Regions from separate parts of the Homo sapiens genome. Here region 1 is linked to region 2. The links come from fine-mapping of genetic effects on gene expression. A gene starts in region 2. The other region holds a variant in brackets. All regions are shown on one strand. Distances are from middle to middle. Region 1 overlaps ZNF790 (zinc finger protein 790). Region 2 holds the start of ZNF790-AS1 (ZNF790 antisense RNA 1).

What was found. PIP is the estimated chance that this variant, and not a neighbour inherited with it, causes the effect. A credible set is the group of variants that fine-mapping cannot tell apart.
Region 1: its variant is the best candidate, but not a certain one, in a credible set for the expression of ZNF790-AS1 in whole blood (INTERVAL, PIP 0.73).

Annotation. Positions count from the first base shown.
Region 1 is chr19:36,830,201-36,834,596 of GRCh38, forward strand. The region is part of intron 1 of ZNF790 (zinc finger protein 790); the gene reads right to left. Among named protein-coding and RNA genes, the nearest start is that of ZNF790, 6.0 kb to the right of the region's middle. The variant G/C (reference allele first, on the strand shown) is at 1,943.
Region 2 is chr19:36,794,858-36,799,253 of GRCh38, forward strand. ZNF790-AS1 (ZNF790 antisense RNA 1) reads left to right here and starts at 2,693. Exons shown (of 6, transcript NR_040027.1): 1 at 2,693-2,954. RefSeq lists silencers at 2,255-2,324, 2,335-2,494 and an enhancer at 2,915-2,984.

The DNA of each region.
Region 1 (4,396 bases), 35 kb after region 2:
CTTTATTCCTAGTTTGTAGAATGTGTATGTTTTAAAAAAAATCATAAAGGGTATTGGCTCTGGTCAAATGCCTTATCTCTATCTATTGAGATGATTGTGTGATTTTTGTTTTTTTATTCTATTGATATGATGTATCACATTAACTGACTTTTGATGGTGAGCCAACCTTGCATTTCTGGGATAAATCCCACTCAGTCATGTTATATAATTCATTTTAGATGTTACTGGATTTGGTTTGCTACTACTTGTTGAGGATTTTTACACCCATATTCTTATGAGATATACTTTGTCTCGTTTCAGTATCTGGGAAATACTGGCCTCATAAAATGAGCTGGGGACTTGGCTGTATTCCTTAATTATAGTAGAAGACACTGGGTGAACTCAGAGCTGATAATAGGAGTCCTCCTGAACCAGTTGAGCTTCTGAATGGTAAAGAAGGCCTGGCTATTCAAAGGGAACCAAATTTTAAAAAAATTGTCTTCTACTGGGGTAACAGAGGAAGAAACCCTTGAGCAAAAAAACCTTAAAAACTACCCTTGCCCCATTCACTTTTTTCACATGAAAATACCAGTGACAGCTATTCCAGGAAAATCTATTACATCCTCTCCAAAATATAAATTAGATATAACATGCGTAAGATAGTTAGATAAAAGTTTTAGGCTGGTGCAGTGGCTCACGCCTGTAATCCCAGCACTTTGGGAGGCCAAAGCGGGCGGATCACGAGGTCAGGAGATCGAGACCATCCTGGCTAACATGGTGAAACCCTGTCTCTACTAAAAATACAAAAAATTAGCCAGGTGTGGTGGCATGTGCCTGTAGTGCCAGCTACTTGGGAGGCTGAGGCAGGAGAATCACTTGAACCTGGGAGGCAGAGGTTCCAGTGAGCCAAGATCACGCCACTGCACTTCAGCCTAGCAACAGAGCAAGACTCCATCTCAAAACAACAACAACAACAACAACAAAAAACACACAAAGTTTTAAAAGTGTGTCAAAATCCCCCATGTACAAAAAAACTCACTAAAAAAATCAGAGAAGATGAAAATCATCACCCAACATTTCAGTCTGAATTAAAAAAAAAGTATGATGCAATTGCAGCTCTAAAAGCAGACCACAAGCAAAAATATACGATCTCAGGAGAGAGAAGAAAGTAATAGATAGACCATAGATGGGAGTTAGTGGAATTCAAGACTGAAAGAGAAAATAGGCTAAGTCACATCAGAAATGAAGAATAAACTAGCTAGTGCAGCGGCATGTGCCTGTGGTCCCAGCTACTTGGGAGACTGAGTCTAGAAGATTGCTTGAGTCCAGGAGTTCAAGGTTGAGGCCAGCCTGGGCAACACAGTGAGACCCCCATCTCTAGGCGCATAAGATCTGACAAATGCCACAGAAAGTATAGTATGGAACACAGAATACAGAAATTAATGAACAGAACAAAATTTAACAAAGAAACAAAAATCATTTGAAGAAATGAAAATGAAAAGAGAGATCCAATATGCAAAACGCAGAGCACCTAAAAATGAAATCCAAATTAAGAGGATATATCTAAAACGATGGTTGTAGCTGTGTATCTAACACTACAGTTTTAATACTCAAGATGAATTTCCTGAAATAGAGTATAAATAAACGTGATGAAAAGTGAAACCATATTACAGGTGAAAATGAACCAAAATAGTAGCAAAACATGACCTAATAAAATTAGACTAAAACTCATGGGGAATCAAGATAAAAATATCAAATATAAGAAAAAGGAAATTCAATTGTCATCAGACTTCTGCAGTGCTAAATTCAGTACCCCAAACAGTGGGGTAAATCTTCCAATATACTTGTGAAAAAAACAAATGAGGGAGTCAAAACATTTTTATATCCAGCCAAGCTGTCATTCGAGTATAAAGGATATAAGGAGTTTTATGATGCAACTTAGGAAATACTGTTGACATGCGCT[G/C]TTTCAGAAGAAGCTACTAGAAGACATACTCCAGCCACAAAAGAACAATAGTGAAAGTTTCAGCAAAAGAATAGTAGTGATGCTGAACATATTTAAATGCAAATCTAAATAAAATAGTAAAAGCGGAATTATGGTAGCCAGCATCCTGGATGGCCCCAAAGGTACCCAGTATGTGGTATTCACAACACTGTGTAGCTGCCTCCTATACTGAATAGGATTAACTTGTATAGCAATAAGGTACTGCGGAAATGATAGAGTATGAGATAGATATAAAAGACACTGTGGCTTCCAGCTTATGCGTTCTTGCTGTCCTTTTGCTCTGGAGAAAACCAGTTGACGTATCACAGGGACACTTAAGAAACCCCATGGAGAGGTCTACATGGTGAGAAACTGAAGTCTATTGCCAATAGCCATGTGAGAGCCACGTTGGAAGGTGATCCTCTAGTCCCTGTTATGCCTTCAAATGATAGCAGCCCTGGCCAAGAGTGTGACTGCAACCTCAAGAGACCCCAAGCCAGAACTTCCCAGCTAAGCCACTCCTGAACTCCTGGTCCACAGAAAATGGTGTTAAGATAATAAATATTTATTTCTGTTTTAGGGTAATATGTTTTACAGCAATAGATAACTAATATAGAAATGAAGGTTAGAGAATAGAAAATAGACTAGCTCATTGATTGCCTCATTTGTGATAACTGAGAGATAAAGGGTGTCATTTCAAGCTGAAAATCAAGGGGAAGAAATTTAGAAATGTTTAGGACTACAGCCAAGGCAGGAGGACTGCCTTGAGGCCAGGAGTTTGAGGCCAGATTAAGCAAAAGAATGAGACCTTCTCTAAAAAAAAAAAAAAAATGAATACAAATGTAAGTCAAACAGGGCAAAATGTCAATTAAATTTCAACATACAAGCAAAAAGTAGGAAATTTAAAATGACAGCACTTAGCAGGAAAAATTCAAATTCCTATAAATAAATCTAACAATATATGTAACATACAATATCTTTTGTTTGTTGGTTTGTTTTTGAGACAGAGTCTCGCTCTGTCACCCAGGCTGGAGTGCAGTGGCACAATCTCGGCTCACTGCAACTTCCGCCTCCCGGGTTCAAGTAATTCTCCTGTCTCAGACTCCCGAGTAGCTGGGACTACAGGCACCAGCCATCATGCCCAGCTAATTTTTGTATTTTTAGTAGAGACAGAGTTTCACCATATTGGTCAGGCTGGTCTCGAACTCCTGACCTCAGGTGATCCACCTGCCTCAGCCTCCCAAAGTGCTGGGAATACAGGCATGAGCCACCGCACCTGGCCTGTACAATGTCTTTATATTAATTACTACAAATAGTTAAAGAAGACCTAAACAAATGAAATAATTTATCACATTCATGGGATGAAAGGCTGATAATTTTCAAGGTGTCAGTTTCCCCAATATAGTGGTATAGGAAGCTTAAAAGTAAAAGGATAGCAAAAGATATACCATGCAAATCATAATCAAAATAATGCTTAGGTGGCTATAATATCAAGACACCATAGATTTCAGAGCAAATAAATAACATGGAAGAAAGGATGGTCTTGAATACATGGTGCCAGGTCAACTGAATTTATATGAGGAAAACAAATCATGATTTCCCCTCACGACACAAAAATCAATTCCAGGTTTATATACCTACATGTGACAGATAAATATAGATGAAAATACAGAATATCTTCATACCTTGGGGATAAGCAAAGATTTGAATAAGATACAGAGTACAAACCATAAAAGAAAAATGATAATGATCAGACTACATTTTAAAAAGCAATTTTTGTTCATCAGAAAAGAGTGAATGGGCTGGTCATGGTGGCTTATGCCTGTAATTCCAGCACTTTGGAAGGCTGAGGCGGGTGGATCATCTGAGGTCAGGAGTTCGAGACCAGCCTGACCAACATGGAGAAACCTTGTCTCTTACTAAAAATACAAAATTAGCCAGACATGGTGGCGCATGCCTGTAATCCCAGCTACTCAGGAGGCTGAGGCATGATAATCACTTGAACCGGGGAGGCAGAGCTTGCGGTGAGCCGAGATCGCACCATTGCATTCCAGCCTGGGCAACAAGAGCGAAACTCCATCTCAAAAAAAAAAAAAAAAAAAAAAAAGACAGTGAGTAAAAATGCAAACCTTACGCTAGGAGACGATATATACAATACACAAAGCTGACAAGGGACTCATTCAGATTATACAAAGAACTCTTAAGGATTAACAATGAAAGACAAGTTTCCCAACAGCTAGGCTAAGAACTTGAACTGGCACTTCCCAAAGGAAGATATCCAAATGGACAATGCACATTAAAACAAAGGTATTCAAGTTCCTTAGTCATCAGTTAGGAAAACCACAATGCAATACCACTACATATCCACCATATTGGCAAACATTTTACAGTCTGACAATGCCATGTGTTAACAAGAAGATGGATCAATTGGAACTT
Region 2 (4,396 bases):
AGATAACCACACAAAAGAGGAGTTTGCTGAGCTGGTCCGTCGCGATTGTCCAATAAGATGCAGACAGACTGGGAAAGAAAGGAGTTTATTTCTGCAACCGGTTAGACGGAGAAGCCAAGTAACTCACCAGACCAACTCAAAGTTTCAAGTTTTTTTCTAGTGCTTATATACATCTTAAGCTCAATGCTATGGTGGGACTGCACCTACAAGCAGAAATGTTGCATTCAATCAACATCTAATCTTTAACTACGGTCTAGGGTCTGGAAAGATTTCTCTAGAGTCTTGGAAAGTTTCTGAATCTTAAGACAGGCCCAGGTGAATGTGTAAGAATACTATTATTATTCGATCAGACTTTAGGGTCTGAGAGGACCCAGGCGGGGTCTTAATGGGTTCGTTTTCGCATTCCATCCCTGATACTCAGGCACCAGTTTCTCAATTTCTTTAACGTTTAACTTATGCATTCATCAAAATTATAGTAAAGTGTTAATGGAAACTGTTCTGGTTGCTAATGGAAACCTGGCCTGCCACACTGCCGAACTGAAGCCCACTGCAGAACACTGAAAATGCCTGCAAACACTGACTTTACTGACAACTCTTAAATTACAGAAAATCAAGTTCATGCTGCCTCTCCGATCTGTCCTACGGAATTGCTAGTTACAAACGTGCACATTGTCCTAGGTTCGGTTTTGCAAAGATGGAGCCCTTCAGCGAAAGCATTTGTTTGATTTCATGCATTAATGTTTCCTCTATCCATTTCCTTTTTACTTATTTATTTAAAGACGGAGTTTCCCTTACTGCAACCTCCGCCTCCCGGGTTCAAGTGATTCTCCTGCCTCAGCCTCCCAAATAGGTAGGATTACAGGCATGCGCCGCCATGCCCCGCTAATTTTTGTTTTTGTTTTTTTCTTTTTTTTTTTCTTTTGAGACGGAGTTTCACTCTTGTTGCCCAGGCTGGAGTGCAATGGCGCGCGCGATCTTGGCTCACCGCAACCTCCGTCTCCCGGGTTCAAGCGATTCTTCTGCCTCAGCCTCCCGAGTAGCTGGATTACAGGCATGCGCCACCACCCCGGCTAATTTTGTATTTTTAGTAGAGACGGGGTTTCTCCATGTTGGTCTGGCTCGTCTTGAACTCCTGACCTCAGATGATCCACCCGACTCGGCCTCCCAAAGTGCTGGGATTACAGGCGTGAGCCACCGCGCCCGGCCAATTTTTGTATTTTTAGTAGAGACGGGGTTTCACCACGTTGCCCAGGATAGTCTCGAACTCCTGAGCTCAGGCAATCCAGCCGCCTCGGCCGCCCAAAGTGCTGCGATTACAGGCGTGAGCCACCGCGCCCGGCCTATTTTATTTTATTTTAAGACGGAGTCTCACTCTGTCGCCCAGGCTGGAGCGCAGGGGCGGGATCTCGGCTCACTGCAACCTCCGCCTCTCCGGCTCACTGCAACCTCCGGCTCACTGCAACCTCCAACTCTCCAACTCTCCAACTCTCCAACTCTCCAACTCTCCAACTCTCCGGTTCACGCGATTCTTGTGCCTCCGCCTCCCGACTAGGTGGGATTACAGGCGCCCGCCAGCACGCCTGGCTAATTTTTGTATTTTTAGTACAGACGGGGGTTTCATCATGTTGGCGGCCGGACTGTTCTCTAACTCCTGACCTCAAGTAATCGGCCCGCCTCGGCCTCCCAAAGTGCTGGAACTACAGGCGTGAGCCACCGCGCCCGGCCCCATTTCCTTTATTTTATTTTACTATGTTCAGACGGAGTTTCGCTCTTGCTGTCCAAGCTGGAATGCAGTGGCGCGATCTCGGCTCACCGCAACCTCTACCTCCCAGGTTCAAGCGATTCTCCTGCATCAACCTCCGGAGTAGCTGGGATTACAGGCGCACGCCACCACGCCCGACTACATTTCCTTTATTTTATTTTTATACTTTACTAGCCTGTTTGTTGATCACAAGACTGGCGGTGCACAAGGTTGGGTCTCGGTGTTCACCGGGCGGTGGGCGTGGGCGAGGTGGGAGGGTCTCCAGCGCCTGGTGCTAATCTCCAAGAAAGTGCAGGAAACAGCACCAAACGTGATTGCAAAGTTTTGGTTTGGCGCGGCGGGTAGGCGTTCCAGCGCAGAAATGCGCAGGAAAGTTTCTGCTGTGCTTGTAGGAAGGTCGGCCACAAGCACTTCTTTTGTTTTTTGAAACCGAGTTTCGCTCTGTCGCCCAGGCAGGAGTGCAGTGGCGTGATATCCGCTCACTGCAAGCTCCGCCTCCCGGGTTCACGCCATTCTGCGGCCTCAGCTTCCCGAGTAGCTGGGACTATAGGCGCCCGCCACCACGTCTGGTTAATTTTTCGTATTTTTAGTAGAGACGGGGTTTCACCGTGTTAGCCAGGATGGTCTCGATCTTCTGACCTCGTGATCCGCCCGCCTCGGCCTCCCAAAGTGCTGGGATTACAGGCGTGAGCCGCCGCGCTCGGCCGGCCCCAAACACTTCTTATTGGCTAATCTGGAGCAAACCTGCATATCCATTGGCTGAAAGCTCCGTCTATTTTAGGGTGACTGAGAGCGTCTCTTCCTTCTGTGTTGCCTGGAAACGGACTGTTCGCCTAGTAACATCTGATCACGTTTCCCATTGGTCACCGTTTCCGGAAGCCCGCTCTCCCGTTTCCGGAATCCCCGCAGGCGCTGGGTCTGCAGATGGCGTCCAGGTACACAGTGGCGAGTGTGATTCCGCAGTCTTGGGCTGTTTGGCCAAGCGCCCGCCGGACATGGTACGCCGAAGGGTCATCGGCGTGGAGTCCTCGCTTTCAGCGTCCGCGGCTGGGAAATCGGCCATCGCTACGGCGGGAACTGGGACTCGGGCTGCGTCCCGGCCCTTCCACATCGGTCCACCGCACTCGTGGGCGCCCGCATTGGTGCTGACATAATTTCCTGACCTCTGACCCGTATTGTCTCGCGATTAAAGGTAAAAAACGGGGCTTTTTCATCCCACTGGGGTAAAACGCCCTTTTATTTCTAGCCAGGTGTTCTGTTGCAGAACGCCTCGAAGGGAGGGAGTGACCGGCAGGTTGAGGTTTATTAAATAAAATACATTCCTGGTTTATATTATGTTTATAATAAAGCACCCCACCCTTTAAAAAATCTCACGTTTTGCCAGTTGCATTATTTAGTGGACTGTCTCTGATAAGGACAGCCAGTTAAAATGGCATTTTGTTGTTGTTGCTAATTAAACCAATTTTTAGTTTTGGTGGTTTTCCTAACAGCAGCAACTTCTCAGGCTTTATAAAATCATATTTCTTGTGGGAAATTTCTGTGAAAGGCGCAGCGAGTTAGTTTGGAATTGTTTTAAAGGAAGTAAGTTCCTGGTTTTGATATCTTAGTAGTAGTATTTTCCCCAGTGTCTTTGAAATCTTATTTTTGGAGCACGTATGTAGAGTAACTTTTGTGAAAGAAACAACTTTTATTTTTTATTATTATTTTTTTTTGAGACGGAATTTCGCTCTCGTTGCCCAGGCTGGAGTGCAATGGTGCAATCTCTGCTCACTGCAACCTCCGCCTCCCGGGTTGAAGCGATTCTCCTGCCTCAGCCTCACGAGTAGCTGGGATTATAGGCATGTGCCACCACGTCCAGCTAATTTTGTATTTTTAGTAGAGATGGGGTTTCTTTATGTTGGTCAAGCTGGTCTCGAACTCCCGACCTGGGGTGATCTGCCCGCCTCGGCCTCCCAGAGTGCTGGGATTACAGGTGTGATCCACCGCACCTGGCTGATTTCATATATATATCTTCCTAAATCCTTTAAAAAGTTAGTGGATCTCTTACTTTTGTAGGATTTATTTCATAGTGTGAATGAGACACCTGTAGGCTCCAGGTCTCTGTCTTCATGAGGTGTGAAGATTCAGTGCTTTATAAAACAGTCCCCACATTCTTCAAAGGCCTTGTTCTTAATTCTCAGCACGCTTGTGCTTCTGACATTGTTACTAAAATTAAGCTAAGTTTTTCTGGTTATGTGAGAGCTGTGGAAATGTCCAGCGTTAGCCACTAATGTTTCTCCTTGATATTTCTCCGTATCTTAATACTGACTCTCAATCCATTACTCAGATGGGTGTCCTTTTCCTGGATGTCTGGAAACTAAGCCTGGCTATCCCTCTGACCTCCCTGCCGAGCTACCATTTTTTTCCTCTCTCTTTTCTTGTCTACACTTGAGTTGGTAACCTCAGCTCTTTCATGAGCAACCTTGATGCCTTTGACTCCTTCTGAGTTTATTACCCACAGTTCCATCAGCCAAGTTTAGGGGCCCATGAGAAGGGCTCGTGTAAATTTTCACATTCCTCTAACCAAAATGTAGTGTTTCCTTCCATCTTGAATATAGGCTGTAGACCCCTCGGGTATGGGGTATTGTTGGCAGT